Linked DNA regions of Homo sapiens: regions 1, 2 and 3 are each linked to region 4. The links come from fine-mapping of genetic effects on gene expression. A gene starts in region 4. Each other region holds a variant in brackets. All regions are shown on one strand. Distances are from middle to middle. Region 1 overlaps LINC02547 (long intergenic non-protein coding RNA 2547). Region 2 overlaps DKK3 (dickkopf Wnt signaling pathway inhibitor 3). Region 3 overlaps DKK3 (dickkopf Wnt signaling pathway inhibitor 3). Region 4 holds the start of DKK3 (dickkopf Wnt signaling pathway inhibitor 3).

The links. PIP is the estimated chance that this variant, and not a neighbour inherited with it, causes the effect.
Region 1: its variant is fine-mapped to the expression of DKK3 in gastroesophageal junction (GTEx, PIP above 0.99).
Region 2: its variant is fine-mapped to the expression of DKK3 in cerebellar hemisphere (GTEx, PIP above 0.99).
Region 3: its variant is fine-mapped to the expression of DKK3 in whole blood (TOPMed, PIP above 0.99).

Annotation. Positions count from the first base shown.
Region 1 is chr11:12,042,792-12,050,894 of GRCh38, reverse strand. The region is part of intron 1 of LINC02547 (long intergenic non-protein coding RNA 2547); the gene reads right to left. Among named protein-coding and RNA genes, the nearest start is that of LINC02547, 16 kb to the right of the region's middle. The variant G/A (reference allele first, on the strand shown) is at 3,938.
Region 2 is chr11:11,962,421-11,970,523 of GRCh38, reverse strand. DKK3 (dickkopf Wnt signaling pathway inhibitor 3) reads left to right here. Exons shown (of 7, transcript NM_001018057.2): 4 at 2,037-2,129; 5 at 3,426-3,570; 6 at 4,559-4,715; 7 at 5,838-7,488. The coding sequence ends at 6,060. Among named protein-coding and RNA genes, the nearest start is that of DKK3, 42 kb to the left of the region's middle. RefSeq lists enhancers at 163-786, 787-1,410, 1,411-2,034, 2,035-2,659 and a silencer at 3,502-3,551. The variant C/G (reference allele first, on the strand shown) is at 3,764.
Region 3 is chr11:11,983,217-11,991,319 of GRCh38, reverse strand. All of the region lies in intron 3 of DKK3 (dickkopf Wnt signaling pathway inhibitor 3), which reads left to right. Among named protein-coding and RNA genes, the nearest start is that of DKK3, 21 kb to the left of the region's middle. The variant G/T (reference allele first, on the strand shown) is at 3,103.
Region 4 is chr11:12,005,122-12,013,224 of GRCh38, reverse strand. It overlaps DKK3 (dickkopf Wnt signaling pathway inhibitor 3), which reads left to right and starts at 4,599. Exons shown (of 7, transcript NM_001018057.2): 1 at 4,599-4,855. The coding sequence starts at 4,643. RefSeq lists an enhancer at 5,412-6,347.

The DNA.
Region 1 (8,103 bases), 38 kb before region 4:
GAAGCATGCCCCTAAGACCACAAGCACCAAAACCTGCAGGAAGCCCCTAAACATGGCCCCCAGTTCCCTCCAGCTCTGCAGGGAGAGTGCTGCTCAGGCAGGGAGGGGGAACTGCGCTCTCTCACTTGCATCTTAACCTTTGCAATCAAAGCCAAGAGGAGGGAAACTCTTGTGCCTGCCAGCACAGTGGGGCATCGCATTTTCTGTTCCTGCCAGCACATTTTTCTAGGTCAATGTCAGATCAGGGAAATCCAATACTGCATGTCCCAACGTTTTATTTGAAAACAGAGAAGTTGCTTTCCAAAATAAATAGCGTTTACAAGTAAAGCCTGGAGAAGCCTCTGTCAGAAATGGACTCTGGGCCCAGGCAGGATAGACGTTTCCTAGTGGCTTTGATTGATGTAAACCCAATGTCAGCCCCAGCTCCAGGCCTAAAAGGAGAGGCTGGGCTGAGGAAGAACACGTGTATATACACATACGTATTGATGTGTGCCCGTACATATGCATTTGCATGTATCCTTAAGGGTCTCTGGGTATGATTAGCATGAAGAGTAAGTTGGGGGGCTTATATGTGTGTCCTTATATGTGTTTATGTGTACAGGCATGTGAATGTGACTGTGTGTGCCTGTGTATGTGTGTGATGTGACACCCAGCCCTGTTTCTCAGACACCCAGTCCTCTTTCTAGACACCCCCTTCTTCTCCTCCTTGTACCTGTTCTTTTTCTTTTTTCTTTTTTTTTTTTTTTGACACAGAGTCTCGCACTGTCACCCAGGCTGGAGTGCAGTGACGCGATCTTGGCTCACTGCAACCTCCGCCTCCCAGGTTCAAGTGATTCTCCTCCCTCAGCCTCCCAAGTAGCTGGGATTACAGGCCCAGCTAATTTTTTGTATTTTTAGTACAGACAGGGTTTCACTGTGTTGGCCAGGCTGGTCTTGAACTCCTGACATCGTGATCTGCCCGCCTTGGCCTCTCAAAGTGCTGGGATTATAGGCGCGAGCCACCGCACCCGGCCCCTGTTCTTTTTCTTAACTGATTAAGGGGCTGGGGCTCAGATCTTGACACACTGTGACAGGCATTTCCTCTGCTCTGTTTCTTCTTGGTGCCTACCCACTGCTCCTTCCCAATTTGATGTTGACTTGTTGTGTAGACCAATGGAGTCCAGTTTTTGGTTACTGTGTTAGGACCCAGCAATTTGAGCCCAGGCTATGTTAACAGCGCTCTGTAAATGGTACCATGCACTGCCCCGGAAGGCCGCTGGTGTCACTTCTCGCTGACGTCACCCTGACTGCAGGATCTCCCTCACAGACCTCCGACTTCTGCTGTCAGTGCAATCCTCCCCAGGCCTTGCCAGTTTCCATGCTCAAGGCCCCGCCTGCCTGATGACCACCTGTCTCATTAAACTTAAGCAACTCAGCCTGGCTTCCAAGATCTGAGTATCTTCTTAGCAAATTCTCTTCTCAGGAAGTGTGTCCCCTTCCTGAGCACCTCGGCCAAGCTGCCCCATACTGTGTTAGCTCTGGCCCCTCCCTTACCCACCTCTGAGCATTTCTTTGCTCACGCTGTTCCTCTGCCCTCACACCATTCCCTGCTGCCACTTCTCTCTCATTGGCTCTGCCGGTCCAAACTCTACGCTGTTTCAAGACCAGTTCTAATCTCACCCACTTTCTCTACGAGGACTTAGAAGAGCCTCCCACCCCACACTACTTTCCCATCAGACTCTGGCTCACGGGATGACACACTGCCCTGTGTGTTGCCTAAGAATTGTTTTCAGGTTGCTTCATGGGCCTTATCTTGCCTTCTGACCTAGATTGCAATCTCCTTCTAGGCAAGAATCAAGCCCGGTGCAAGAATCAAGCCCGGTGCTGCCTTTGAACGAGATGTGGAACCCGACACAGGTCTGGACACAGTATAGCCAGGGGATGAGGGCTTGTGGGTGAGTGCACGCAGAAAGGCACACTCGGCTGGGGCGGTAAGGCCGCAAAACTGTGTCCTAGGCACTGCGTTTTGTGATTTATCTGTCTTAGCTCATCTAATAATAACTGTGGCGGCAGGGTGATATTATCCCCAGTTTAGAGATGAGAAAACAGAGATTGAAAGAGATTAAGTGACTTCTCTGAAGCCACAAAAGTAGTCCAGTTGTCTCTTGCTAACTGTGGGGGTTTGGTTGCCTGATCCCCTTGAATACCAAAGTCTGCGGATGCTCAAGTCCCGTGTCAGCCCTGCAGAGCCCTTGCATAGAGGACACTTTGCTTGTAACCAGCAAAATCAGGGGTTAATCCTAGGTGGGTCTGACTGCCTTTCTCATAACCTTGTAACAACCATATCCATGGGAGGCAGCATGCTAACAGTGAACTCTCTGAAATTCTAAAGCACACCCTACCCACAAGAGATCAGAGCAAGTTCTAGGGTGGCACTGTCCAACAGAACTTTCAATGATGGAAATGTTTATTTCTGTGCTGACATGAGAGCCACTGGCCACATGTGGCCATCGAGTACTTGAAATGTGGCTAATGAAGTAAAGAACTGGATTTTAAATTTTATTTTATCTTAATTTGTTTATTTATTTGAGACAGGGTCTTGCTCTGTCACCCAGGCTGGAGTGCAGTGGCGTGATCTTGGCTCATCGTAGCCTCAACTTCCTGGGCTCAGGTGATTCTCCCACCTCAGCCTCCCAAGTAGCTAGGACTATAGGTATGCACCACCATGCCCGGCTAAGTATTTTGGTAGAGACAGGTTTCAACAAGTTGCCCAGCCTGGTCTCAGACTCCTGGGGTCAAGAGATCTGCCCACCTCAGCCTCCCAAAGTGCTGGGATTATAGGTATGAGCTACCACCCCCCAGCCTGCTTATTTAATCTTAATTAAAACGTAAGTACTGTGGTCACATGTAGCTAGTGGCTTCCATATTGGATAGTGCTTCCCAACCACGTCCATGTCAAGTCAACATAGAAAATACTAATTACGCAATAATGAGACTGTTTGCTGCCAGAGGCAACTGGCTCAAGGGGTCCTGCCTTCCTGACCCCACCTAGCCTCCCTCAACAAATCTGTAGGCCACTTTAGGCACACTAGCTCTTCACAATGGTCAAGCTTCCTGCCAGCTCCCAGCCTCTGGGCCTGGAACACCAAAGTCATTGTGATCGTAAGAAATGCCAGCATAGGAGATGTGCAGGACCTTGTCAGTTCTTGCATGGTGTCCTTTCCTCCATTCCACACACAGTGCCTGGCCCTGGGCAGGGGCTGGGGTAAAAAGAACTCAGAGCCAGCCCTCACTAAGCACTCCCACGAGGCCATCTGATTCATATGCCCCAAACTGTTCTTTTTTGGCAGCACTTTGGCGCCCCCTCCTGGGCATCCTGCAGAGTTCAGGTGCGCATAAATTTGCCAGGAGGGGACAAGGACTTGGCCCTGGGACTGACCGCAGGGCTGTCAAAGACTTCCAGCCCCCCTGGCCAGCCAAGTGAGGGAATGCCTGCCCTTTTTCCAGGCCCAACTGGGGCAGCTCTTTTTCCTGCAGGGAAAAGGCACTTTACTGGCAGCCCTGGGGAAGAGGCAGGGGAGGCAGCTGAGTCTGGAAACGGGAGCATTCCAGAGCCCAGGCCTCTAGGCCCCTGTGCACTCTTCACACTGTGCCAACCCTGGATTTTCAGAGAGAAACCAGAGAGGATGGCTTGGCAGAGGCCCTTTTGGAGGTAACTGGGAAGCAGGAGAGGATGTGAAGTCAAGGCTGGTCTCTGAAGTGGAGGAGTTGGCCACAGGGAGAGAGGAGATAGGAAAGGACTTTGCAGTGGAGGGGGCAGCCAGGGAAAGCCCTGGAGGAGAAGGGGAGGGTGATCACCAGGGCATTAAAGCGGTCAGCGTGGCTGGAGTGGAGAGGTTGAGTGGAGATGAGGGAGGTGGTGAGGCTGCTGAGGTGAGGAGGCTGAGGTAGGAGGATC[G/A]AATGAGCCCCAGAGATCAAGGCTGCAGTGAACCGAGATCATGCCACTACACTCCCACCTGGGCACTGGAACAAGACCCTGTCTAAAAGAAAATGTGAAAACCATTCTTAGCTCTTAGGGCATACAGACACAGGTGGCAGGCAGAGTTTGGCTTGAGAGCTATAGTTCACTCACTCTCATTCTATCAGAAGGTGCCTGGATGGTGCATGGACAGGCCAACCCCTCTCCCACCCTCCAGCCTTTCCCCATCGCTTCACTTTCAAGTCTCATGCAGCCAGCCAGCCAGGTTTAAACACCACCTCCTCCAAGAGGACTTTTCTTACCTTCCCAGTCCAAGTTAGCCTCCCCCACTGTATTACTCCATTTTCACACTGCTGTAAAGAACTGCCTGAGACGGGGTAATTTATAAAGAAAAGAGGTTTAACTGACTCACAGTTCCACAGGCTTAACAGGAAGCATGACTGGGAAGCCTCATGACACTAACAATCATGGCGGAAGGCGAAGAGGAAGCAAGGACCTTCTTCACATGGTGGCAGGACAGAGAGCAAGGGAATCTACCACACGCTTTTAAACCATTAGATCTCATGAGAACTCACTATCACTAGAATGGCAAGGGGGAAAACAGCCCCCATGATCCAATCACCTCCTACCAAGTCCCTTCCTCCACACGTGGGGATTACAATTCTAGATGAGATTTGGGTGGGGACAGAGAGCCCAACCATATCACCCATCAACTTTGTGCCCCTTATAAAGTTACTGACCAGTAACTTACTGACCTCTGGGTGTGTATATGTGTGTGTGTATATATGTTTGTGTGTGTGTGTGCATGTGTGTGTATGTGCATGTGTGTGTTTGTATGTGTGTGGATATGTGTGTGTGTGTGTATTTGTGTATGTGTGTGTATTGTGTATATGTGTGTGAGCGCCTTTCCTTGCACCAGCCCTGTGCTGTGCCGTGCAGTAGCCACTAGCCACATGTGGCTATTTAGGGCTTGAAATGTGGTGAGTCCAAATTGAGATGTGCTGTGGGTGTAAAATACACACAGAATTTCAAGCAGCATAGAAAACAAGAATATAAAATATTTCATTAATTTTCCAGCTCTTAGGGAAGTTGATGAATTTTAATTACTGAATTTTATTTTAATTACATTTTAAAATGACAAGATATTGGATATATCTTATTAAATGTATTATTATTAAATTTATTTTTATGGTGTTTCTTTTTACCTTTTTTTTTTTTTTTTTTTTTGAGACAGGGTCTCACTCTGTCCCCTAGGCTGGAGTGCAGTGGCATAATCATGGCTCACTGCAGTCTTGAACTCCTGGGCTCCAGCAATCCTCCACCTCAGCCTCCTGAGTAGCTGGGACTACAGGGCACACCACCATGCCTGGCTAATTTTTATATTTTTTTGTGGAGACAGGGTCTTGTTAAGTTGCCTAGGCTAGTCTTGGACTCCTGACTCCAAATAATCTTCCCACTTCAGCCTCCCAAAGTGCTGGGATTACAGGCATGAGCCACCACACCTGTCCTTCTTATTTTTTATTTTTTTGAGACAGGGTCTCACTCCGTCACCCAGGTTGGAGTGCAGTTGTGTGATCACAGCTCACTGCAGCCTCATCTTCCTGGGCTCAAGTGATCACTACCTTAGCTTCCTGAGTAGCTGAACCTATAGGAGCGTGCCACCACACCTGGCTGATTGTTTTTTATCTTTTGTAACAACGGAATCTCCATATGTTACCTAAGCTAGTCTCCAACTCCCAGACCGAAGCGATCCTCCCATCTCAGCCTCCCAAAGTCCTGGGATTACAGGTGTGCACCATCACGCCCAGCCAGCCTGTGAGTTCTGACAGCAGCTGTGCTGGGTTCATTGTTGTCACTCCAATGTCTAGTGCACAGAGTAGGAGAGGGAGGGGACAGGCACAGGGATGTCTGAGGGCTTCCCACGCACCAGATGCTGTGTTAAGCCTCATCCATCTCGTTTTGTCCTCCCAGGAACCCTGTGCCAGGGATGGTGGCGTGGCAGCAAGGCGGAGAGTAGGAGGGCTCATTTAGGCCCCAGGCTACGGTCAGGGGTGAGGGGACAGGTAGAGTCCTCTCTGCTTTGTAGGCCTCCTGGGTTTCTAGACAAGAGGACACCACCCTCCTGCCACCACTTTGCATACTTCCTGGGTCACCGTCTTCCCAACTGGGGCTCAGCCATGGCCATTGTGAAATTTGTTCTGTCTCCTCTCAGACTCTGCCTCCCACTCCCATATCCAGACACGTTCCTGCTAGTGACAGCCACATGACCCTCCCAATAACCACACGCCCAGCCTGGCAGCCTTCCTGGGCCTCAGGAGTGTGGTAACTTTGGAGAAGGGCTTCTGACTCAGGCAGCTGAGCTTGCTGCCAGGTGGGGACTGGCTCTGGTCTCAGTGTATCTCTGGGCCCCTTCCCAATCCCAAAATGAAAGTCCCTCTTCAGGAGTGTAACCATCCAGGAACCAGCCCTCAGCTCAGCACTGGGTAGTGTCTGCTCATAAAAATGGCCACAAGGTGGCACTGTTCCCACAGCCATTCCCTTCCCCCACGGCAAGACCACGGGTCACACCTGCATCCAACAAAAATATTACAGCTTTTGGAAGAGGTTTTCCCTGGACTGGTTGGTGAATTTCATTCTCAGTCTTCAGCTGCCAAAGGTTGTTTAGACTCGGGAATTCTGCTATAAAAAATGGTCATCTCTGAGTGCACACTTAAAAGTCAAGCAGGTTATGACTCATTGTCAATCCCCCTGCAAAGGAATTCTGTCCTGAGAGGCCTCGTGCACGCCTGACACATACAAGAGGAATGCACACACGTTAAGCAGAAAGCACGTGGGTCTTCCGTGTGCAGACACGAAGGCCGGGAAGAATGGCCCTACAGGTGATCTAGCCGTGTTCTGGTTTTCTTTTTTTGTTTTAGCCTTAGGATTTTTATTTAGGAAAAACAACAAAACAAAACAGAAGCCACTGCCCTGACTATGGAGTAGCCATTCTTTTATTTTCTTACTTTGTTAATAAACTTACTTTCACTTTAAAAGAAAAAGAAAACCAAAAAGACCTCACATAGAAGCCAAATAAGTAAAATGAGGGTAAAATTTGAAAAATATATGGTGGTTCTGGTTGCAGATGTGGGGATAAAAGAATCTCTTCCCAGTGAAGAATTTTCTAGAGCAGAATTTGAAATGTATCCATCTAGTCTCACTGGCTTATTTTATAGGAGAATAAACTGAGACTCAGAGAGGAAAATGACTTGTTCAAGATCACATACTACTTTGGAATGTTTTCATTTTAAATGAAAGTCTCAAAAGGCAGGTATTTTCACTGAGAAACAAAAACAGTTTTTATTTTCTCTGACATATGTCCAGATGCTCTTCAAGTTACGGTGACCCGGGGCACAGGAAGAGTACTGCCTGACACTTCTACACAGCTCTGTTCATTTCAAATGCTTTCAGCATCTGTTGCCCTGTCTGGCCCTCACAATACCCCTTAGAGTTTGGCAGGGCAAATGGATACCCCATTTGTCTGAGGCGAGACCAAGGCACAGAGACGGAACTGGGCTTGCTTTAGGACACAAAGTGAGTGAGTGTCACTAAAAAATAAAATAAAAGACTAGCATCCAGGACTCCAGCAGCAATCCTACACAATCGTCTAGAGTTAAGTTTATGCTATGTCAGGGGGGAAACAAACAAGCAAAAAAAAACAGACGAGGCTGCTCGGTATTGGTGCTCAAGTGATGAAAAAGAAAAGTGAGGGCAGAGGCTCCCTCGTTGAGAATAGAACCCCGCTTTCTTCAGTTTTACATTTCATGATGAGGCATTACAGCTGGTATATTGTAGGATTCTGAACATTCATTGAATGAATAAATAATCATGACATGGATACATACATAAATACATTTGGCCCCTGAGACAGGTAATTAAAATTCTGCACGAGTTAACACCATTTCCATAACCCACATGGACAGAAACTCTTGACAGATGTCTTGGAGGAGAATGGCTTTCAAGGTACAGGGAGATACGTTGGTCTCTCTCTCCTCTCTTTCTGAACAGTAACCTTCGGAGAAAGGCAACCTTCAAACAGTGCTGGATTCCTGCAGCATTTTTACTGTTCAAATCTTTTGTTTCTTCCCACTTACTAAGGATTTCTG
Region 2 (8,103 bases), 43 kb after region 4:
GAATAGGATGTGAACATCTTTGGGGGTGCTGTTATTCCACCCACCATGGAGACATTCAACCTTTCTAATTTCTTCCATTCTAAGTGAAAAAAATGGTGTTATGCTCTTTTAAGTTGCATTTCTTGATTGATTTCATTGGTGAGGTTGAACGCCTTTCTATTTGAAGAGGCAAATTTCTGTTATTCTAAGTTGTCCGTTCATACCCTTTGTCTCCTTTGCCACTGGGTTGCTCTTTCTCTCTCTCTTTTTCCAATTGAATTACGAATTTCTTAAGGGCAGAGGCCTCCTCACATTCACCTTTGTGTCCCCAGTCCCTCAAAATATGGCTGGTTCAGAGAAGGGATTCTGTGCCTGTTGGCCCTTCCTTTCTCCCAAATGTCGTCCCTCCCACTCCATTTTCTTGCCATTCTGCTTTGGAAAGAACGTCGGGAGGCTTCCGGCTGAGCAGCCTGAGTTGTGTCTGTGCACAAGAGCGTGTGCTGGGCTGAGACAAAGCGCGTCTGTGATTTGTTCCCAGCCCTGTTGGGACTTCTCTGGCCGCTGGGGCTCTGGCTCAGACTCAGTCCCTTCACTTGGGCGGCCGTTCACCCTACTCGGAGCCTCGGTTTTCTTATCCGTAAAAACAGCGATGGTATCATGCCTGACATTTAAGGGGTGCTGGGAAAGTAACTGAAACAAAAGCATCAATGCTTGGCAAGGGAGCACCCTGGTTGCTGGGCCGCCAGCACTTGCAGTGTTGATCAGAGCAGCAGAGCCCCTGGAAGGGGACTGGAGGCAGCTGCCGGAGGTCCAGGCCTGCCCGGCCAGGCTCTTCCAGGTGGGGCTCCACACCTGCATTCAGGATGGGGAGGATGCTCTGGGTCAGAGGGGAGAGCCGGTCCTTCCCTTCCTCAAGACCCTTCCAGAAGGTCTGCTGGGCCCCAGAATACCAGGCCTCAGGAGGGTCCTTCTCACCACTGGCTGCTACATGTGGAGCCCTGAACCCCCTTGGCTCAAGGGCTGGTGGTGGAAAGAGACCCTCCACCCTGAACTAGTCACATTATCTTGGAGGGACCTCTCTGCCTCCATTTCCCGGCTGGCAATATAGAGAAGGCAGTCCCTACCTGCCTCCTGCTGGGAGGAGTCACTGAACAAGATCAGGGCCGTCAAGCCTGATACCTCAAAAGGGCGATCAATGGCCATTCCTGTCATCATGTTCCCTCCTCCCCTGCCCTCCTTCCCCTGCTGTAAAGCTGCCGGTTCGTAGGCCTGAGCCTGACAGCAGGTCCAGGAGCTGAAGCAGCCCTGCTTCTGCCAGTGACCGGCGACCATGGCAGGTCACAGTGCCCTCGGCCATGGCTCCCTGTTCTGTGACTCAGGCCTTGGGGTGGACAGATTCCCCTCACTCCTTCTCTCCCTGTTTCTCCAGCCAGGCAGAGCTGGCAGCCATGAGGAGACAGCACCTGGGCTGGGAGGGCTGGAGTCCAGCCACCCTCCTCTAATTCATTTCCAAGCTGGCAGCTGCCTTTCCCTCTTGCAGGGACCCTAGACCCAGGACCCTGAGGGCGCTCTCTGTGGGCAGGGCTGTGGCTTTCTGGCAGGGTCCCTAGCGATGCCCCCTCTGCTGCCTCCCAGTCTTCACAGTCAGCAGAGCCCTTGGGGCCTGTCTTCCAGCCTTTCCTGTGCAGTCGGGCGGGCCTGGACCTCATTAGCACTTTTTATTAAATCCATATGTTCTGTGTGGAAGACCAGCCCTGAGTCCCTGTGCTCCCGCCCTGGGTGTGGGTGGGGGAGAACTGTGCACAGATGGCGATTGTGTGAATTTGGTGTGGGATCCTCCAGGCTCTGGGCTGCCAAGCCTCCTAGGCATGGAGATGCTGAAGGGCAGTGCAGCCAGGCAGGGATCAGGAGCGACTAGAGTCTGGAGGCCTTTCCTGACCCTGCTGAGCCTGTGGGGTCAAGAATGGGGAATGGAAGCGGGCCTGGCCCTTCCTGGGCACTGTGGGCCTGCTGCTCTGCTCTCCATTGACACATCTGCTCCCTGTGCCCTTCCCCAGGAGTGCATCATCGACGAGGACTGTGGGCCCAGCATGTACTGCCAGTTTGCCAGCTTCCAGTACACCTGCCAGCCATGCCGGGGCCAGAGGATGGTGAGTATGCCAGGGCCTCTGGGGCTGTGGCACCAGGGTCTCAGGCACCTGGGGGAGAAAGCCAGGGGCCCCAGCGTTCTCAGCTGGGCTTCCCAGAAGAGCCTCACCATGATGGGGAGGACCCAAGAGGGCTCCCCAGAGGGCTGACTCCTGGAGGACAAGGAACTCATTCCAGTTTGGGATGACAGGAAGCCATCTGCAGACCCAGGGCCACTCCCATCCACCCCATGTCCTCTGGTCATGTTGTTTGTGTCATTGATGGTAGAGAAGGGGAGGGACGGCCAGGCACCGTGGCTACACCTGTAATCCCAGCACTTTGGGGAGACCAAGGCAGAAGGATCTATTGAGGCCGGGAGTTCGAGAAGGGGAGGGAAGGGAGAGGAGGTGTCCCTACACCTGTTGCTTCCCCTGGGGATGACCCATCCTAATAGACAAACAGAGACATTCCGGCAGCCCCCAGGCAGGGAGAGCGGCAGCTGCTCTCCTTCTGGACCTGCACCCCACCCACCAGATCTTTCTCCAATCTGCCAATAAGAGAGGGCAGAGGGACAGGGCAAGAAGAGGCCAGGGCACTGCCCCAGTGCAGGTTAGATTGGGAAATGTGGAGCCAGGGCAAAGGAGACTCTTCACCCAACAGGCATTTTGGACGAAGCCACATGGACTCACAGACTTTTCATAGTCATTTTTCCTTATTCAGACAATAACACAGCATGCTAATAAGCTTGGAAAGTCAAGCAGTTCTTATTACCTTACCCGACTGTCTGTGGTGAGGCCACTGCTGTTGCACCTCGCAGCCAACCCCACTCGGTACCGTCACTGGGCACAGCCGTGGGGACCTCACTTTGCTCTCTAACTGCCATGCCCTGTGTGGCTGCAGGACCCTGGCACCCACAGGCCATCCTCATCTTGGGCTGGCTTGGGCCTTAGTTTAATCGGCTCATCATTGGGCCTTGCCTCTTTGGGCCTGGACCTAGGGACCTAAGGAAAAAGGGAACAGCACAAGTCTGTGGGGACCACAAAGACCCCCTGCTGTTCTTTGCAAAATCTTAAGCTGTGGAGAAAGACTCAGATCCATGAGTCCTCCCGGTGCCATTTTTCCAGCGTTCTGACCCCCATGTCTCGCCAGCCAAGCTCCCACCTCTGTCCCACTGACTTTCACTGAAATCTCAGCCTGGTCTGCCTGTCTCTACAATGGGAGGATGCAGGTTGGCCTATCTGTGGTATCTTCAGGCTGGGCTCTCAGCAGGCCCCCAGTCCCTAAGCCGCTGGCTCTAGGCTCTTTCCACCTGTCTGCAGCTCTGCACCCGGGACAGTGAGTGCTGTGGAGACCAGCTGTGTGTCTGGGGTCACTGCACCAAAATGGCCACCAGGGGCAGCAATGGGACCATCTGTGACAACCAGAGGGACTGCCAGCCGGGGCTGTGCTGTGCCTTCCAGAGAGGTGAGTGGCCTCCCCTCAGATGCAGGAAAAACCCTGTCCCAAGCTCCACCACACTGGACCTCCTGGAGCCACGTCCATGCCAACCACATGGTTTCGCGTCCCACCTCTTGGATAGGCTCCCAAATGCTCATCAGTGTGTGCTGCACTCCCACAGCCTCTGCCCGGAGTGGGAAGACCACCTCTTTTTTTTCCC[C/G]TGTTGATGCTCAGAAAAGTTAAATGACTTCAGGATGCAAAAGCCCAGTCTGGAATGGGGTGGGACTAGCAGCCCCCTCCCTCCCACCACTCCTTATTTCCCAGGTTCCTCTACCTGTGAATCACCCGCTTCCACTCCCATCTTCCGTCCTGCCTCTCCCAGGTGAGGTCTGCTCAGGCTCTCTCCGCCCCCACTAGGGTTTTGAAAAATTCTCATTTGCCGCCTCCCCAGCTCTGCATCCCCAGCCCACTAGTCCTCCCTGTACCTGCCGCCTCCGTGATCTTCCTAAAGGGCTGCTTTTTGGGTGTTGCTCCCCTGGGACCTGCAGCAGCTCCTGTTGTCTCCCACGATGTTCAGACTCCTTAGGCTGTCTTGTGAGGCCTCATGCAGCTCCAACTTACTTGCCCTCCTTTTCTCTCCACTACTTCTTGGCCTATTTGGGAATTTCACCGGCCCTGACATTTTCCACTGAGCTCAACCCCAGGCCTTTGCTGGTGCTGTCCCTGTGCCTGAATGCCTTTGCCTCCCTCTTAATTTCTCCAGACTTTCTGGCCCTCAAAATCCAGCAGAAGCCCACCTCTTCCAGGCAGTCCTCCCTGCTTCAGCCCTACCAATCATTCCCTCCTGAGCCCAGGCTGCTATTCTTGTTTCCTGTCATTCCGTATCTTCAAAACTAGCCTGCACTTTGGGGTTGAGGGTGGGAGGTGGGAGGTTATGCTCCATTTCTTTGCCCCTCCCTTTGGAGCCCTTCTACCCTACACGGGGCACACAGGGGTGACTCTGGGCTGGTTCCAGGCCTGCTGTTCCCTGTGTGCACACCCCTGCCCGTGGAGGGCGAGCTTTGCCATGACCCCGCCAGCCGGCTTCTGGACCTCATCACCTGGGAGCTAGAGCCTGATGGAGCCTTGGACCGATGCCCTTGTGCCAGTGGCCTCCTCTGCCAGCCCCACAGGTGAGGCCCCCTAACCCTCACTCTCAGGGAGCCAAGGGCTGAGGAGGTGCCATCCAGCAGGGGCGTAGGAGCAGGAGCAGGTTTTCCCTGGGGGAGGTGTAGATTCCCTTTAGGATTGGTTTGAGAGGTCGTTGGGTCATGCAGATGGAAGGGTCCAATCAGCAGTCGGTTCTAGGGGTCTGGAGCCCAGGCTGCCCAGGAGGCACAGATCTGGGGCTCATCTAGCTGGTGGCTGAAGCTTCATGAGTGGATGGTCCATGGAGAGGACATGGAGGGAGAAAAGCCTGGGCTCCCTCCCCAGACCTGTCACAATGACAGATAAGCAGAGAAAAAGGAGCTGGCAGAGAGGCCACGGGGAGGCCAGGAGTGGCCACCAAGGTGGAGGGTGCAGCCCACACTGTCTGAGGCTGCTGAGACTCCATGAGGCATGAGGCTCAAGCCTGGCCAGCTTCTCAGGGCACATCTCCCTGTCCTCCCCGCAGCCTCTACTCAGTCTTCTCTCCCAACAGAATCCAGGGCTGCTGGGCAGACAGGCAGAACTCCCATTCCCCACGGCTCTGTGCAGTGGCTCACACCTGTAATCCCAGAGCTTTGGGAGGCCAATGCAGGAGGATTGCTTGAGGCCAAGAGTTCAAGACCAGCCTGGGCAACATAGGGAGATCCCGTCTCTACCAAACACATTAATTTTTTTTAAAAAAAGGAATTCTTCCTCCCTATTCCCACAGAGGTCCATGGCTCCCTGCATGTGGCTAGACTACACCCCAGAGTCAGGCTGACTCCTGCCTGGAGGCCCGAATGGGCCACAGTCTTTGAGGGGCTGTGGTGCTGCTACATAGCACTCAGGTCCTGCCCCTGGGCTGCGGGGCCTGAGAGTCACAGGAGGTCAGGCCTGCGCTGGAGGAGGGGAAGCTGCCCCCCACCAGCACATTCTCCCAAAGTGAGCCTCCCTCAGCCATCATTTTAAGATAGATGTTGACGGGAAGTGAAGTGTCTCTGTTGAAGAGACAGGAGAGGAGGGGGCATGAAGGTGAGGCTGGGAGCCCCACAGAGTCAGGGCGCCTTAGCTTTCGGCCTGGGCAGGCTCCCACGTTTAGAGCCTGGCTTTGTCCCATCTCTCCCCAGCCACAGCCTGGTGTATGTGTGCAAGCCGACCTTCGTGGGGAGCCGTGACCAAGATGGGGAGATCCTGCTGCCCAGAGAGGTCCCCGATGAGTATGAAGTTGGCAGCTTCATGGAGGAGGTGCGCCAGGAGCTGGAGGACCTGGAGAGGAGCCTGACTGAAGAGATGGCGCTGAGGGAGCCTGCGGCTGCCGCCGCTGCACTGCTGGGAGGGGAAGAGATTTAGATCTGGACCAGGCTGTGGGTAGATGTGCAATAGAAATAGCTAATTTATTTCCCCAGGTGTGTGCTTTAGGCGTGGGCTGACCAGGCTTCTTCCTACATCTTCTTCCCAGTAAGTTTCCCCTCTGGCTTGACAGCATGAGGTGTTGTGCATTTGTTCAGCTCCCCCAGGCTGTTCTCCAGGCTTCACAGTCTGGTGCTTGGGAGAGTCAGGCAGGGTTAAACTGCAGGAGCAGTTTGCCACCCCTGTCCAGATTATTGGCTGCTTTGCCTCTACCAGTTGGCAGACAGCCGTTTGTTCTACATGGCTTTGATAATTGTTTGAGGGGAGGAGATGGAAACAATGTGGAGTCTCCCTCTGATTGGTTTTGGGGAAATGTGGAGAAGAGTGCCCTGCTTTGCAAACATCAACCTGGCAAAAATGCAACAAATGAATTTTCCACGCAGTTCTTTCCATGGGCATAGGTAAGCTGTGCCTTCAGCTGTTGCAGATGAAATGTTCTGTTCACCCTGCATTACATGTGTTTATTCATCCAGCAGTGTTGCTCAGCTCCTACCTCTGTGCCAGGGCAGCATTTTCATATCCAAGATCAATTCCCTCTCTCAGCACAGCCTGGGGAGGGGGTCATTGTTCTCCTCGTCCATCAGGGATCTCAGAGGCTCAGAGACTGCAAGCTGCTTGCCCAAGTCACACAGCTAGTGAAGACCAGAGCAGTTTCATCTGGTTGTGACTCTAAGCTCAGTGCTCTCTCCACTACCCCACACCAGCCTTGGTGCCACCAAAAGTGCTCCCCAAAAGGAAGGAGAATGGGATTTTTCTTTTGAGGCATGCACATCTGGAATTAAGGTCAAACTAATTCTCACATCCCTCTAAAAGTAAACTACTGTTAGGAACAGCAGTGTTCTCACAGTGTGGGGCAGCCGTCCTTCTAATGAAGACAATGATATTGACACTGTCCCTCTTTGGCAGTTGCATTAGTAACTTTGAAAGGTATATGACTGAGCGTAGCATACAGGTTAACCTGCAGAAACAGTACTTAGGTAATTGTAGGGCGAGGATTATAAATGAAATTTGCAAAATCACTTAGCAGCAACTGAAGACAATTATCAACCACGTGGAGAAAATCAAACCGAGCAGGGCTGTGTGAAACATGGTTGTAATATGCGACTGCGAACACTGAACTCTACGCCACTCCACAAATGATGTTTTCAGGTGTCATGGACTGTTGCCACCATGTATTCATCCAGAGTTCTTAAAGTTTAAAGTTGCACATGATTGTATAAGCATGCTTTCTTTGAGTTTTAAATTATGTATAAACATAAGTTGCATTTAGAAATCAAGCATAAATCACTTCAACTGCTCTTCTGTAGTTCTTGGATTTCTTTTCCCTTTTGACTTTGAATAAATGTAAAATCCTTTCAGCCAGAAAAAGTAAAATAGAAACAACCTGTATTAAAAATCTTCCATAGAAGCAAATTTGCCACCCAACTGAAGCACACCTCTTTCAGCATCAAAATATTTTAGAAATCTTAACTATTTTTGGATGGGAATTTGTCTTAAAGAGTGTAAATGCTTCACGGCCTTCTGAAAGGACAAATGGAATATGTATGACTCTTTTTTTAGGGGAGCCTTCTTTAATCAAATGCAGTTCTGGGCCATAAGACAGTAAGATCCTCAAGGACCATAATATTAGAGCTACTATATTGAAGTCAGCTGCGTGGCAAGTGCCAGATTAGGCAGTCTACCTATATTCATTCATTTAATCTTCACTGAACTCCATGAGCATTTTCTTCATTTCACAGATGAACAAATGGAGGTGCAAAGAGATTGACAGAGTAGAAGTCAGACAAAAACAGCATCTAGTACAGTATGTCCAGGTTATAGTGATTATTTTAAGATCAAATAGGGAGCTGTTTTCTATTCAATGTCAGAAACCATCAGGACCACCCTACATTCTGGTTACTCAACAGATATCTACTGAGAGCCTCCTCAGAATCAGGTGCTGTGGTACGCTTTGGGGTGCCAAGCTGACCCAGATAGGGTCCC
Region 3 (8,103 bases), 22 kb after region 4:
AGATCAAATTTCAACATGAGATTTAAAGAGGACAAATATCCAAACTATATCTGACACTAATTGATCTCTTGTTCCAGGCCATCTTTTCTAGGCGGTGGCCTTGAAAAACAGAGCTAGCTCTCCCTCCTTGGCAGAGGGCAGGTTTGCTTGCAGTCCATTATCAAAGGTTTGGGTTCTCTGAGCTTGAGATCCCTTAGGTGTGATGTAAACCCAATGCATGTGCAGCATCCGTCTGGACCCCTCCATGGGGCAGTGTGGAACCTGCAGGCAAGGAGAACTGATACAGACAAGAGGCTTATGCTGTTTCCGTGTTGCTGAAATAAAGTCCTTTGTCTCTGACCCAGAAGTCTCATGTCTTCTGCTAGCAGCCATGAAACCGTGGCAGGAACATGTATCATCTTGCAAGTAGAATAGAATCTTAGACCCTTCACACTTCTTGACAGGCTCCCTGGAAGAGGTGGCAGTTGAGCTGTATTTTGAATGTTGTCTAGGAATTCTCAGTTGTGGGGAAAAAGGGTATTCGTTGAACAAGTATTTCTTGTTCAAAGTCAAGGAGGCATGTGGAAATAAGAATATGTTGGAGGAACGCTAAACAATTTAGAATGCCAGAGCTGGAGATGTGCGTGGGGGAGCAGCAAGTAAAGCTGGGGGAGAGGCAGGGATGAGATCAGGCAGGCCTTTGAGAGCCATGCCAAGGAGTTAGGAATACATGCTGAGTTAGGAACATATCCTGCATCTGCAGTGCTTTACCATGTCCTGTACTGTATACTGTAATGAGACTTCATGCAATCCCTAGAGGAAAGAGCCAGGAAGATGTGGTTTGGAAGACAGACATTCGTGGCGATGGAGCTTTGCTTAATCCTGCTGAAGCTGAAGGCTTGAGCCCCTTTGGGCTGCAAAGCCTGTACCCTGCAAAAAGCCTGGCTTCTGGCCTTGAAATCTGGAAACCGTTACTTAGAAATGGAGCACTTTGCTTTTGCTTGGTGCCAGTAGACAGGACAGATAAGTGACAGTAATTGAACTTGAACTCTCATTAGGTTGATGGTGTCGGCTGCAGAACAAGCTGATTTCTGTGGTCTCTGAGTAGCCTGGGCATGTCAGGGGCCCAACAGCTCCTCCATGCAGGTGTGTGGCTGTCCACTGCTCTCAGGACCTGGGGATTCTTCCAGACAAGCCTGGATAACTTTCACCATAGGGTCTTTGTATCCTGGCTGCCAAATTTGTGGCCCTGTCCTTCTTTACCTGTTGGCATCATTCCAAAAAACTCATTGAGTCCATTTTGTTTTGTTTTTAAAATAACATCAAGGGCTACAACATGTCCCAGTATTCCCTTATTTAGTCAGGCGCTGTGCCAGGCATCTGACTTGCATTCCTTCACACGATCCACATGACAATGATACAAGGCAGACACCCAGTTGACCCCATTTTACAGATGAAGTAACTGAGGCTCAGAGAAAATTATAAAACAGAACTTGTAGGTGGCTGAGCCAGTACTAAAAAAGAGAAATAAAATGAAGCACTTAGGTCTTGTGGATTCCAAAACTTCCAAGACTCATGTTCTTAATGCAACATACAAAAAATTGTGATAAAATGTATATAATATAAAATATCATCTTAACAATGTTGACACATATAATTCAGCAGGGTTAATTATACTGGAGAAAAGAATTCTCCAGAATTCTTCTCATCTTGCAAATCAGAGATGCTATACCCATTAAACAATGCCCCCCTCCTGCAATCCCCTGGCAACCTCCATTCTTCTTTCTGTCTGTATGATTCTGACCACTCAAGGTACCTCATATGAGTGGAATCATACTGTATTTGTATTTTTGTGACTGGTGAATTTCTCTTAGTGTAATGTCCTCAGGGTTCATCCATGCTGTAGCAGGTATCAGAGTCTCATTCCTTTTTAAGGCTGAATGATAATACATGGTTTGTGTATATACATAGATATATTCATATATTCATACCATGTTTTGTTTCTCCATTCATTTGTCAATGCACCCTTGGGTTGCTTCCACCTTTTGGCTATTGTGAATAATGCTGCTATGAACACAGGTATGCAAATATCTCTTTGATATTCTTTCATATCAAATGCTTTCACTTCTTTTGGATATATACCCAGAAGTGGAATTGCTAGATCATAAGGTCATTCTATTTTTAATGTTCTGAGGAAACACCATACTGTTTTCCATAGTGGCTGCGCCATTTTGCATTCCCACCAGCAGGGCACAAGGTAGAAGTTTTTTTTTCAACCTTTCAGTCTTCATGACTGTAGGCACTAGAGGACATAAGTGCCCAATGTAAGCTGAAGGACTGTCTCAAAATTCCTGGCCCCTGCTGTCCTTGGATAAGGCAGTGCGTTCCCCAACTCTGTTTCCAGCGGTTGCCTCTGCAGTGTGGCAGCCATAGTCTCAGGGAGTGTTTTTAAAGCTTAACTGATGCCACTGACCTGAGTTTCTCACCCCTCACCCTGGTCTGTAGCCAACATGCTGAAAACTTTCCCTAGGCCTGGGCGTATGCAGGCTCAGGCTGCATCGTGGAGATTGTGGGGATCCAGAGATGTGATTTCCTTGACCATTCAGGAATTAACACCCACTCCACACCCTCCTTTATGAGCCCCACCCTTACCCCTCCATGGTGTCCTCAAAGACTCCCCAGAGGCATGAGGGGCCTCCCACTTCCCTGTAAAGGGGCTCCAGACTCCCAAGAGGTCCTATGGGGGACTCAGGCCTCCAAGGAGGTTTTGTGGTGATGATGGTTGTTTATCAATTCCCACCTGTGGTAGCGAGGGCTTCCCGGGAGGTAGGCCAGGGGACAGTGCCAACAGAGGCCCCAGTCACACCGTCTCCTCTTCCAGGGTCAGAGCCCGGAGCAGTGGAAGGGAAGTGGGTCAGGATGGGAAGCGGGGAATGCAGAAGGACATGTTTAATGCTCCCAGGGAATTCACAGTCATGCCCCCGAATCTAATAAATGAGCTGGTCTCTCCAATCAGGCAGGAAACCTCTACTCTTGGTCACATCCCCAGCAGACTATGGGAAAAATGATGGATGGAGATTGAGTCATCTAAATGTTTGTTCAGATCTCATTGCTCTGTCTACT[G/T]TCAGTTTCATTTTTCACCTCCACCTCCTGGAAGAGAAAGAATAAACAAGATATTTGGGTACGTTTTAGGGGAGCATAGTGGTAGAATTTGGAATCCAAACTGCTGCAAGTTGAAATCCCTGCTTCTGGGGAAACTTCCCTCATGGCTCTGAGCATTGGTTGCTGCTCTGTGAAAAGAGGATTTAATGACTGCCCGAGGAGGGTATTTTACAAGTAGGAGGCCATGTCTGGAGAATGGTGTTTAATAGATGCTGAATAAGTGTAAATTCTCCTTTCTGACCTAATTTCCTGGACCCCTTGTGGCAGGAAGCAGTAGTTTACTGAATTTGAGTGTGATGAATCAGTAAATATGTTTATTTTGTTGTAAGGTTGCTGTTGCTTTGAAAGAGTAACTGAGAAGGCTTCTGAAAGATGATGGTGGCTAAGGTGCTAGACCAAACAGATGAAAAAGCTATTTGTGTAAAGACAGGCCTCATGCCAAAGATAAAGTAAAACAGTATATCACTGAGTCACACAATTATAAATGGTAGAATTCACAGGGTCCCCTGAACTCCTCTGAACCAGGAAGGAACACATGTGGCCCATCCACTGCCATACCCCACCTCCGGGCACATGGCAGACATTACTAATCAATTGCAGAGTTGTTTCCTTATGAGCCCAGATAGCCTCAGCACTTGAGGCAGCACAGCACTTCCAAGCAGCAACTGACAGTTGGGAAAGGACTATCCTTGAAACCTGTGTTCCACCCCTGCTTCAGACCAAACCTCCTGTTTTACAGATGAGAAATCAGAGATGGGAGGGATGTAGTTTTCTCCAAATCATGCAGCCATCAGATCTGGAAACTTATTTCCAGTTCAGTTCAGTTTTTAGTGCATGGTGGACATGGAATTTCCTTTTTCAGGAAGCAGGGTCTTGGTGCCCTTGTTTTTATCATATCTCAAAAAATTAATAATTGAGAGGATGGGCCACCTAATGCTGAGAAAGATGGTGAAGACCAGCTGGGAAAGGGTGTTCTCAGGCCCAGGGAAAAAATTTAGAAGTTCATAAAGGATTGTCTGAAGACTGAACTCTGGGGAGGCAGGGATTTCACCTGTTGTGTGCCACCTCCGTATCCCTGTGTCTGTGCTGGACATGGATAGGGGTTGAGTAGTTGAATACATACTTAGTAGATGAAAGCTGTGTGACCTAGTTGCAAATTGGGGAATAGAAACGGAAGTAAAATTCCTTGAAGGTAAGATTCTGTAAAGAGCTGTAAGTATGTAAATGAGTCTGATTTGTTTAAAAAATGAACCTCTGTTTTTCTTGCCTTTGTTCATTCATCTACATTGTTGGACACCTACTGTTTGCTGGGCTGTATACCCAGTGTTTTACGTGTTTTCTAATTCTTAAAACACTATGAAGTAGATATAATATTATTTTATAGATGAGGGCACTGGAGTTTAAAGAAGTTAAATTCCGCAAGTCATGGCAGACGGTAAAATGGTAGAACTGGAATATGAACCCAGTTGTAAATTTTGGCCATTTCAATTAAAAGATATATTTCTGATAAAGTCATGGTGGTTTGCAGCCATAATGTTGAGTTGTTTTGATCCCCAGCCTTCCATTCCCGGGTTACAGCTTGTGTCATTAACATCAAGAGTCATTGAGCCCCTCCCCCTTCCAAAGGCCTCAGATGGAAAACCAACATCACAAAAGGACAACTGTATGGTTTTCCTCTCCCAGGGATGGCAGAGCTCCTTGGGCTCAGGGGAGAAGATATCAGTGGAAGATGGTTAGGAAACTGTGGAATCTCACACCTACTTTCTTTTGTTCTCACCACTGATGGGGTGTCAGACTTGCTGCTGCTGAAAAGGAACATTCTAAACCAGTAGAGGGGCATTTTAAGTGGGTGGCATGCTCCCGTGTCTGAAGAGGTTGGCCATTGACACATTTCAGTGATGCGATGTGGAAAATACAGCCACAGGGAAAACAGCCTGAATTTTCCATAGTCTCATAATTCAGGGCCTCCCAGAAAGGAGGCAGGAACAAAAGAGTAGTGGCTAGGATAGAAAAACACCCTGGCTTGAAGATGGCGGAGGGGCCTGCCCTCCAGGCCAGGGGTACCCGGGTGGCTGGGGTGGGCAGAGGCCAGCAGATTCCATCCTTCTCATGCCTGGCAAGCAGAACTTAGGCTCAGCCCCACGAGCAGGAGATTCCTAGTAGCCTTTGCTTTTTCCATTGTTTCCAGGGTCCTCCCTTTTTGATTAAATCTATGGGGACCTCCTTCCCCAGAAAGAACATACATCCTGTAGCAGAAAGTTCAAATCAAAGGCCAGAAGTCATACTCAGTGCTTGCCTTGTGCAGAGCTGCTCTCCTCTCCCCGCATCCCCATGGTTTTGCTGGGATTTGGAAGGTGAGAGGAAGGAAAGAGAACAAATATTCATTAAGCACATACACAGATGCTGTGTGACCATTTCATATGAGCTACTTTCCTTCACTCTTACCAAACCCACCTACAACACAGTGTACTAGCCCTGAGTTAAAGATAAGGAGTGAAAAGCTCAGAGTGACTTGCCAAGGTCACCCAGCTAGTCAGTGGCAGAGTTGGGATTTACAATTATTTCCAAATAAGTCTGTCTTACTCCAAAGCCTAGACTCCTTCTAGTGCACTGAACACTGCCTTGCAAAATGATCAGATGGTGGGAAGGTCACTAATAGTAATGGAATGTCTGGTACATGCCATGAAATGTGGTCATACTTATCACCCTTAATCTTTCTGACAACATAACTGGTTAGGTTTTATCATGCCCATTTTACAGATGAGGAAACTGCAACCCAATGAAGTTAAATGACTTACCCAGGCTTGCCCAGCAAGAACTGAGGAAGAGAGCTTGGGGAGCTCACTGTCGGGGGAGCGGGTCATTTTAGAGCCTTTTGTCTGAGTCTTGGCTTGGAGAGCCGGGGCAACCCTGGTGGTGTGGCCGGGCTCCTTGGTGCTGGAGCACAAAGGAATCTCCTAGCCCCAGCCGGAAGCACCAAGACCATTATGAGGATGGGCGGCTCCAGGGTTTCTGGGGCAGGAAACTTGGGTGTGCCCAGACCACCTTCCCTAGACCATCTGCACATGGCCTCCTCCTTGGAGCTGGAGTTCCACGTTTCTTGCCATCCCACAAAAGTGAAGCAAAATTTGACGTGGCCTCTTGTGAGCAAAATGAGGTCAAAGCATATGTTTTTCCACCACTGAAACATTAAAGTTTTTCCCAGGCTCATTAGCATAAACGATTCAACTTGAAAAGTTAAAAAATTCTGGGAGACCCCTTTCCGTCCTCACTGTGGAAGAACTTTGTGGGTAGTGTTGGGGGCAAAAGAAAGAATAATTCCTCAGGGCAGGGAAGAGACTGGAAGGCAGGAGATTGGACGCTCCTTAGAGGCTCAGCAGGGAATCCCAGGCGCCGTCCCCCACCCAGCAGCCCTGCCAGGGGGCTGGGGAAGTGACTTTTTTTCTGCCCAGGGGAAAACAAACTGGTTTCTGTTTTGTTCTGCTTTAGATTTTCTTCACTTTTTCTTTTTTTTTTTTTTTTTAAAGGAAATTGAGCAAATTCTTTGAATTGAATTTATAAAGAGGGCAATGGATTAGGGACACTGAAGCAGTGGTTGTTCAGCTTGGGCATACAGCAGAATTATTTTCTTAATCTGGATACAACTCATGGGAAAAGTAATGCGTTTTTATTTTCACTTACTTTTAAATTAAATTGAGCACTTCCTTTAATCTGAAATGTGGACAACAAACCACAATATTTGCAGTACTTCGTACCAATAGCAATCACAAATATTTTTATTTTCTCTTACTGTTGTTATACATATCTTAAAATAGCATTTATGCTCAGCACTTAGAGATGAAGAGAGTTGTCAGAGTTGCCGATAGGTCTTGCTATCCAGTGTGTTCATAAGAAGCCCATAAAATACTGTCTCTCAAAATATTTTGATAACTCGACTTCAACACAACCATTTTTCTTTGTAATCCTGTATGTTTACCTTTATTCATCTAACTCTGTTATACTGAGAACAGGAGAACAGGCTTCATCTAGGTGTTAAAGGGGTCCCTAGTACAAAAAAAGTTAAGACCCCTTATTTTAAAAAGGCCAGTGTCCACACTGGGACCTCCTAGTCACTCCTCGTCACAGAGACAGACATGGCCTAGTGGGCAGCAGGGAGGCTGTAGAAGGATCTGTCTGTTGCCTTCATTGGAGTGACATCCCCACCATTGTAGATAAGACTTAACCTTGAGGTTCCTCGAATCATGCCAGCTTCCCCATTCAGGTGGTTTGAATCCTAAAGACTATGAAGAGCCATTTTGAAGAAACTGAAGGTTGAGAAGATTCTGATTACCAGCATTGTTGTATAGGCATTGGGTCGGGGGTTGGTCTGGAAAATGCTGGGCCTGGGCTCTGTCTCAGATGTAGGAGTGCCCAGCTCATCCTGGGGCATCTCCCAGATGGACCATTTGACAGCAGCGTAGCCCAGATAGGGGCCTGCACTGACTCCTGCTGCCCACAACTGCAGCCAAGGCTGATCTTCGGTGGAGAAGGCCTCTGTCCTGTGGCTGCAGCTTGGCAGCCTGAACTGCTGCGTGAAGCATCCTCTGACTCCCTTCTCCCTCTGCAGCCTGTCTTACCCATGGCATAGCTGGAGGATGCAGACATGACATCCAGTGGAGACTTGTGATATGTCAGGAGGGATTACAGGTCACAGCCCCTGGAACCTTGTTCTTCTTGAGAGATTTCACCTGCCCCACCGAAGGCTCCAGCCCTAAGCCTTTGGGATGGACAGAGAAAATACAAAATATGATGCAGTTTTTGTCACCTCCCAGTTCTCTCAAGTCCATGTGCCTAGGGACTGTGTCTCAGAAGCACTGTCTCCTGAGGAACCAGCTCTTGCATAGGTGCTATCTCCAAGTGCTGAGAGTGTGGAGGGACTTGGCACATTTATTACTTTCTTCCCAAGGCAAAGGAAAACCAAAT
Region 4 (8,103 bases):
GTGGCAGCAGCAAGGAGAAGTGCAGAGCAAAGGAAGGAAAAATCACCTTATAAAAACATCAGATCTTGTGAGACTTATTCACTACCATGAGAACAACATGGGAAAGACCTGCCCTAATGATTCAATTAGCTCCCACTGGGTCCCTCTCATGGCACATGGGGATTATGGGAGCTACAATTCAAGATGAGATTTGGGTGGGGACACAGCCAAACCATATCAAACTAATACACATTCCCACCGATACTGTATAAGTGTTCCCTTTTCTTCACATCCTTGCCAACATGTTATTTTTTGACTTTTTAATAATAGCCATTCTGACTGGTATGAGATACTATTTCATTGTGGATTTAATTTGCATTTTTCTGATGAATTTAGTGATACTGAGCATATTTTCATATATTTGTTGGCCACTTGTATGTCTTCTTTTGAGAAGTGTCTATTCATGTCTTTTGCCCACTTTTTAATGGGGTTATTTGGAGTTTTTTTTATTTGTTCAAGTTCCTTATAGATTCTGGATATTAGTCATTTGTCAGATGCAGTTTGGAAATATTTTCTCTCATTCTGTATATAGACAACAGGTTGTCTATATACCCTGTTGATTGTTTCTTTTGCTGTGCAGAAGCTTTTTAGTTTAATTAAGTCCCATTTGTCTATTTTTGTTATTGTTGCATTTGGTTTTGAAGTCGTAGTCATAAATTCTTTGCCTAGACCAATGTCCAGAACAGTTTCTCTTAGGTTTTCTTCTAGTATTTTTATAGTTTCAAAGCTTACATTTAAGTCTTAATCCATCTTGAGTTAATTTTTATATATGGTAAGATGTAGGGGATCTATTGTTATTCTTCTGCATATGCCTAGCCAGTTTTCCCAGAATCCTTTCCCCATTGTTAATTTTTGTTGACTTTGTTGAAAATCAGTTGGCTATAGGTGTGTGTCTTCATTTATGGGTTCTTTATTCATTCCATTGATCTATGTGTTTATTTTTGTACCAGTACCATGCTGTTTTGGTTACCATAGGCTTGTAGTATTGTTTGAAGTCAGATAATGTGATACCTCTACTCCAGCCTGGTGTGGATACCCCTCCTCACCTCACAGTAAAGGGGGCCACTGCTGGGCCTTGGGGAGGTCAGCATTTTGCCAAGAACAGATATAAGAAAAAAGTCTACTTGACTACAAGAGGTTTTTTTGAGTTGTTTTTGTTTTGTTTTGTTTGGAGGATGGGATGGTGCCTTCTGCTTTTATTTACCAATTTATTCACAAAATATTTTAAATATACCAAAAATAATAAAAAGAACCAGCCACACCCATATATCCTGATGTAAGTAATCATCATGGTTGATTAAACAGATGCGAATATTTGGACACTTCTGTTTCAGAATTCCTCCATGCTGGTACACTCCCTTTCTTGAAGAAATAAAATGTTATCAATACAACTGAAGACATCCTCCATCCCTTCCTTGCCTCCCACCTCAGAGGCAGCCTGCACATTTCTATATTTTTATTATATGTGAGAATCCATAAACAATGAATGCTATTGTTCTGTTTTTCTAAGATATGCACAAATCGTATCCCATATATGTCTTTTCGCAAATTGCCTTTTCCACCTCATATTATATTTTTGAGAGTTGGTGATGTTGCTGCCTATAAATATTGTTCATTATTCTACCTGCTGTACAGTATTCTATTATTGTAGAAGCCCCGGTCTATCCATTCTCCTGCTGGAAAACACCAGCAAGTAGTTTCCACATTTTTTGCCATTATAGATACTGCCTCAGTAAACATCTTTATACATGTCTTCTTTTGCACATGGTCATGAGTTTCTGGAGGGTGGACAGCTAATTGTGAAATTGCTGTGTGGCCACTTTCTAGGCAATTTTCAGCCAGTTATATCCGCTTTGCTGCCATTTCCTCAACCATGAAATGGGTCCCCAGTTTATGACTTGGGAGCTCCCTCATAGAGAAAATGTGAGAACCTAAAATTTTAAATAATAATTCCAGAATGTGTTTCCAATGACTTAAAAGAAAAAATCAACTGTTCCCAGTGGATACAGAGCTTAGCCAGTGACACAATGGGAATTGTGGAAATGTAGAATGTTCTCTACTCTACCTATGATTGTCCTGGATGGCTCTGCACTCTCTGCCTGCTCTGTGCCCCTCACCTCACAATGGCCATCCAGACTGGCCCTTTCTCCAACAAGTCCCCGACCCCACTGGGCTCCCCAGTCTGAGTTCTTTGGAGCTGACACTCCTTGTCCAGATCTGGTTTGGGCTCATCTCTACAGCTGGCCCCAGGGCTTTTCCTTCGAGCCCATGAATGTCTCAGGCTGGTGCGCGGACTGGCATGGAGCTGGGCAGGAAGACCACTTATATTTGAGACCTGTAGATTTTCTTACCGTTTCTTCTCTCTCCCTTTCTTTCTTTCTTTCTTTCTTTCTTTCTTTCTTTCTTTCTTTCTTTCTTTCTTTCTTTCTTTCTTTTCTTTCTTTCTCTCTTTCTCTTTCTCTCTTTCTTTCCTTCTTTTCTTTCCTTTCTTTTTTTCGTTTGTAGTTTAACCTAATAATTGAACTACTGATAAATTATTACATTTGGGAATACAAAATGTAGACTCCACACAAGAAAACAAGCGTCCCTTTGCCTGACACTTGGGGCAGTTCGATATAGAGAGATTTTTAGGTTGACTCTGAAAGTCAAGACCTCCAGACCGCATGGTAGAAGGTGTAAGGCAGAAGACAATCTCAGCTGGGGAAATTCCTGGTCTTTAAGCCAGCAACATGAAGGACTGGAAGAGCATGATGTGCTCTGTAAACCCGCAGCACTGCATTTCCTAGCTCGGCCCCACAATATGCCCCCACAGCACCCTCCAGTTCGGCATTAGTTTCTTCCTAATGTCCACTCTGCCCGAAGTGACAAGCGGGGGCATGTGGAGACTCAGCTCCAGGTTCCTGGACGGGCTCAGCCACCCCCAGAAAGCTAATGAATGCTCAACCAGGGCTTCCAGATGCCCAGGGGACAGAGCAGGAGATGCCGGGGAATGGGGCTTTCCTTGCAGTTCAGGAGGGCCCTGCCCCAGGCCCAGAAGTAGAAGGGAAAGCGGCTGTTTTGGCGGTAAACAGTAATGTGGGGAGTGCTGCAGAGAAAGGCAGTCTTGGGGTTTCAAGCTGGAGAGCAGTCAGCTACACTCAGGACCTCTGGCCATCCCTGCCTTCACCTGCTGTTTGGCCTGATCGTCTAACTTCTCTGATTCTCCACTACCCACTCCTTATTACGTTTTTGAGACTTGTCAAAGTTTTATATTAGGGCTAACTGGGACGCATACAAATCTGGTAACTTCGCCAGGGCGGGAAGTTAGGAAGGAGCAGAGCTGGCTGCAGGTGTCTGGTCCTGACCACTCCTCTATGCCACCCTTGAGGAGCTTGCTGACTTTCTCATGACGTTCTCCCATTCCAGGAGCTGCAAGTGCGTTATCCTGGCTGGAGCACGGTGTCAATCACGGCAGACTAAGGCCAGCGGTGATGGCTTGAATGCCAGGCTGGGGGCTGGGATTTTTCCTGAGGATTTCACAGGACAGAGGTTGGCTTGGAAAGACCAAGGTGGGACTGAGGAACATTCCCCCTACCCCCAACCTCGGTGGGCTGTTGCAAGCCTGGAGGCCAGAGAAGACGGGCCTGGGATGCCGCGGGCGCAGGGGCAGGCAGTGAAGGAGATGGCTGCCTTCGGTAGAGCTGGTCGCTGAGGCAGAAGAGGAGGGCGTGGGGCGTGGGGCGTGAGGTGGCCGGCGCCCCGGCTGGCCAATGGCCGGGCTGCGGCCCCTCCGCGGGGCGGGGTGGGCCTGGTGGGCGGGCGGGGCTCGGGGCGGGGGCGGAGAGGGAGCCTGGTGGGCGGGCGGGGCGCGTCTTGCGGGCTCCCTCGGGTACCGGCGCTGCCGCACCCCGCCGCGCTCCCGCACCCGCGGCCCGCCCACCGCGCCGCTCCCGCATCTGCACCCGCAGCCCGGCGGCCTCCCGGCGGGAGCGAGCAGATCCAGTCCGGCCCGCAGCGCAACTCGGTCCAGTCGGGGTGGGTGAGGGGCGGCGGCGGGGGAGGGGACGACTCTGCTGAGCTCAGCCTCTCTTGGTGGATGTGGGGCGGGGCGCTCGAGTAGGACCCGACGCCAAGGGGAGGGGGCTGACCTGTGCTTGGTCCACCCCAGGTAGGGGCTGAGAGAGGCTTGAGGTGGAAGTGGGGGTCGGGCACTCTGACCTGGTCGAGGAGGGGCTAGGGTTTGAACCGGGGACAGAGTCTAGGTGAGCTGGGGCTTGGGAGCTATTAGCGTAGAGGATCCGGGTTCGGTTGCTCTGGCGAGGGCTCCAGCATCACAGGTGAGGAGCAGAGCTCAGCTTGTGCTCGAGGATGGGGGTGCGGGGTCCTGGGGCGATCGGGGCTCGGGCTGGAGCGGGTGGGGTCGCGTCTTTTCGGGTGTAGGGGAGCTGCGTTTTCAGGGGCCTCGGTTTCCTCCCGTCTCCGGGCGGGTGCGGGAAAGAGGGGCGCCAGGGGCGGGCGGCGGGGCGGAACGGGGCGGGGCGGCGGGCCCAGCGAGGGGGGTGGTCCGCGCGCCTCTGATCGCGTTCCGGGACACACAGGCGGCGGCTGCGGGCGCAGAGCGGAGATGCAGCGGCTTGGGGCCACCCTGCTGTGCCTGCTGCTGGCGGCGGCGGTCCCCACGGCCCCCGCGCCCGCTCCGACGGCGACCTCGGCTCCAGTCAAGCCCGGCCCGGCTCTCAGCTACCCGCAGGAGGAGGCCACCCTCAATGAGATGTTCCGCGAGGTTGAGGAACTGATGGAGGACACGCAGCACAAATTGCGCAGCGCGGTGGAAGAGGTGGGTGCGCCCTGGCGGCGCGGGGCTCTGAGAAGCGCCAGACTGGGGGCAGCGAAGTCTGGGAAGGCATGGAAGAGCGCTGGCCAGGGACCTCGGGTCCCGCGCAGGGCCTGGGAAGGGCCGACAGCAGATGCGGAGTGACCTGGAGGCAGCGCACGGTGATCCCTACTCCCGCCTCGTTTTGCCTCCTTGCCAAAAAGTCTGGATCTGAGCCTGTCCACCGAGAGGCTCTGCACTGGACCCTCCCTAGGTAGCTGGGGCCACCACCTGCCTGCAGTTGGCGTCAGGCATGCCGTTGGCCTTCCCTATTGTCAGCAGAGGTTTGCAGGGCCCCTGGTATTCCAGCACTGTGGTTTCACAGAAACCCGGGACAAGCTCCAGGCATCGCCAAGTTCTAGCTTGTCCGTTATGCTTTGAGCTTGTTAGGATGCCATGCAGGGACAAAGAGGCAAAGAGCCCTGAGCTTTGCTGGCAGTCTGTCTGGGCTGTCTTGCTTCTCACGCAATGTGGGGGCAGAGAGGGAAGATGGAAATCCTAAATCTCAGCACTGTATGAGTGGCGGATGAGGATGTGAGAGGCAATACCCCCTCCACCCAACGGTGCTTCGCAGTTGTCCTGGGCTCAGGTCCTCCTCTGCCACTCAGTAGCAGGGTGACATTGGGCAAATCACTTAATATCCTGCACCTCAGTTTCCTGTGAAAACTAAATGTCATATGTGTGGGCACCTGGCAAATAATAGGTGCGCAGTATTTAGCAACTATTATCAGATACCACGTACCTTAGCAAAGCTTTGCCTAGCTTCTGCCCTCCATCACCTCCAGGTCTAAACACTGTGGGTGGCATCTTGTTCTGTCCTCTGTGATGGTCACCCACGCATGCCCAGGGCTACCTGGGCAGGAGATGTCACTGGCCCAGCCCTCTCTGTCCAGGTGCGGGGAGCTGTCCCTGGTGCCTGGGGTGGGTAGACGAGGGCGCTGTTGGGCCCAATCTGTCTGTAGCCTGTGTCTATAGAGAGGAGCCAGCCGTCCTAGTGAAGGAGGCAGCAGGAAACCAATGTCCAGGCTGGTTGGCCCCTGGTCTGGCTTCACATCCCTGCTGTCTCCAGCTTGGTATCCCCCTTGGGCAAAGCCTTAACTGCTGGCCCTTGTCTCCAGGGGGAAGTTGCTTTCTCCCCGCAGCCCTTTGTAGTTTGGGGCTATTTCCCCTCCCACTCCACAACAGTTAGCCTGTGGAGTTTGCAGTGAAGGGGACACTGGCTTGGGAGGCAGTGAAATGGGCAGCTGTCCTTGAATATCCACTGGACAGGCCCAGATCCCAAGACCCATGATCTTTCTGTTTCCTGTGATTGCAAAACAATCATGACATGGAGCAATTAAAGGGTGAAGGGATTCAGATAGGCCCCAATGTCTCTTAACTCTGAAGCTTCAAATTAAGTGGAGTTTGCGATGCCTCTGGTTCTAGGGCAGGCCATCTGCTTTCCTTATCCAGGTTCTAGGACTTTCCCTCCTGCACACAGATTCCCGGTAAGACTGACTAAGTCACCTCTATGTTTTTGTGCCCACCACTGTTCAGAAAGTCTGCAGCGTGGTCCTCTGACGTTAGCTTCTGCTGAGGGAGGAGAGAGAGCAGCAAGGGCCTCTTCAGTCTCTTCTTGAGCAGAGCAGTGTGGGGCCCTGCAGGACCTAGTGACGGGGTCTTCTCCATGGGCGTTATCCAGACTGGATTTTGCCAAGACCCCAGCTTTCCTCCCTCTAGATGTGGCTCTGTGTAGGTTGGGGGGTTGAAGTTTGCCACCAGAGGAGATGTGGGCTGTCACTTCTACCCCACTCTTTCCCAGAGGTGTCCTCGCTGGCAGTGGGTACAGGATGAGAGAGGTTGAACACCATGGCAGGAGAAGAGGCAGTGGGGACTGATCTTCCCTCATCCAGTCCCTGCTCTGCCACTTACTGGCAGTGGCGTTCCGAGTCTGAAGTGGAGAAATGTCCACCTCTTAGGGTAAGGTGAGAATTAAATGAGATGCTGCAAGTAAAGCAAATCAGTGAGTTGGGCAGCTATCCCTGAATATCCACTGGTCAGGTCAAGAGCCCAAGATCCATGATCTTTGTTTCCTGTGATTGTGAAACTATCATGACATGGAACAATTAAAGGGTGAAGGGAGTCATATAGGCCCCAATGTCTCTTAATTCTGCAGCTTCACATTAAATTGAGCTTGTGATGCCTGTGGTTCTAGGGCAGGCCATCCGCTGACTGCCTAAAATGGGGTTAAGTAAAACACGTGTAATACAGGTAGCTTCATTGTGAGGTGGCTGTAAGGATGACATGATGGTTGGTTGTAAATAAGTAACAGGTATCATTATCATCATATTACTAGTAGCAGTATGAATGATAACAAAACACCACCAGTGTCTGATAGATTCTCAATAGAATCTATCTTTTAAAATATCTTAAACCATTAAAAATTAATCTTAAAATACTAAAAGTATCTTTTAGATATCTTCAAAAATAGAATACAATAGATTGTTTATAGACTGTGGTTATTAGTATTAACTTTTTATGGAGACTGCCAGAATGCCCCTTAAATCTCATAGACACAGGATAATTGGTATTTAGTCATTGTTCAGGGGAAAAATCAAAAAGGACCTGGGCCAGATGCATTATTTGTTTACATAGTTGCATCATGAATCTCCTTTCAAGTAACTTCCTGGCATTTTCAATGTTCCAGCTGAATCAAGCTGTTGAAGTTTCTTAAGGGGAAGGACAAAGCAGCTCTACTTGTACGGTCATTATTGGAAGAAGCATATCTTCAAATGGCTTCAATCTGGGATATTCCTACTTTCCTGTGTTACTATTCTATATGCTACCAATCAATGTATTCTGAAGATATAACCACTCTGTTTCTCTTCCCCTCATGGCCAGCTCTGTAACTCACTCATTTTAGAATGTTCTTACTGCCTCACCTATTTCTAGTATAAGTGCCATTTTTAATAGCATTCACATTCCTCCTCTACGAAACAGCTCCTTTTGCTTCAGACTTAAGTTTCTCTTGCTAGTGGCAATAATAGTTGCGGTTGAAATTTCCATTGTAAACTATACTTTTAGTTCATGGTGCCATTTAAGAACCGTTAGCTCATTCTGTTGAAATAACCAGTGGCTGAGCTGGGGGGAAAAGTTTTATAAAAAGACTATCTGCTCAGCCCAGAGCAAATTCTAGGTTTGGCAACTTGTCAATTATTTGAAAGCCAAACTGA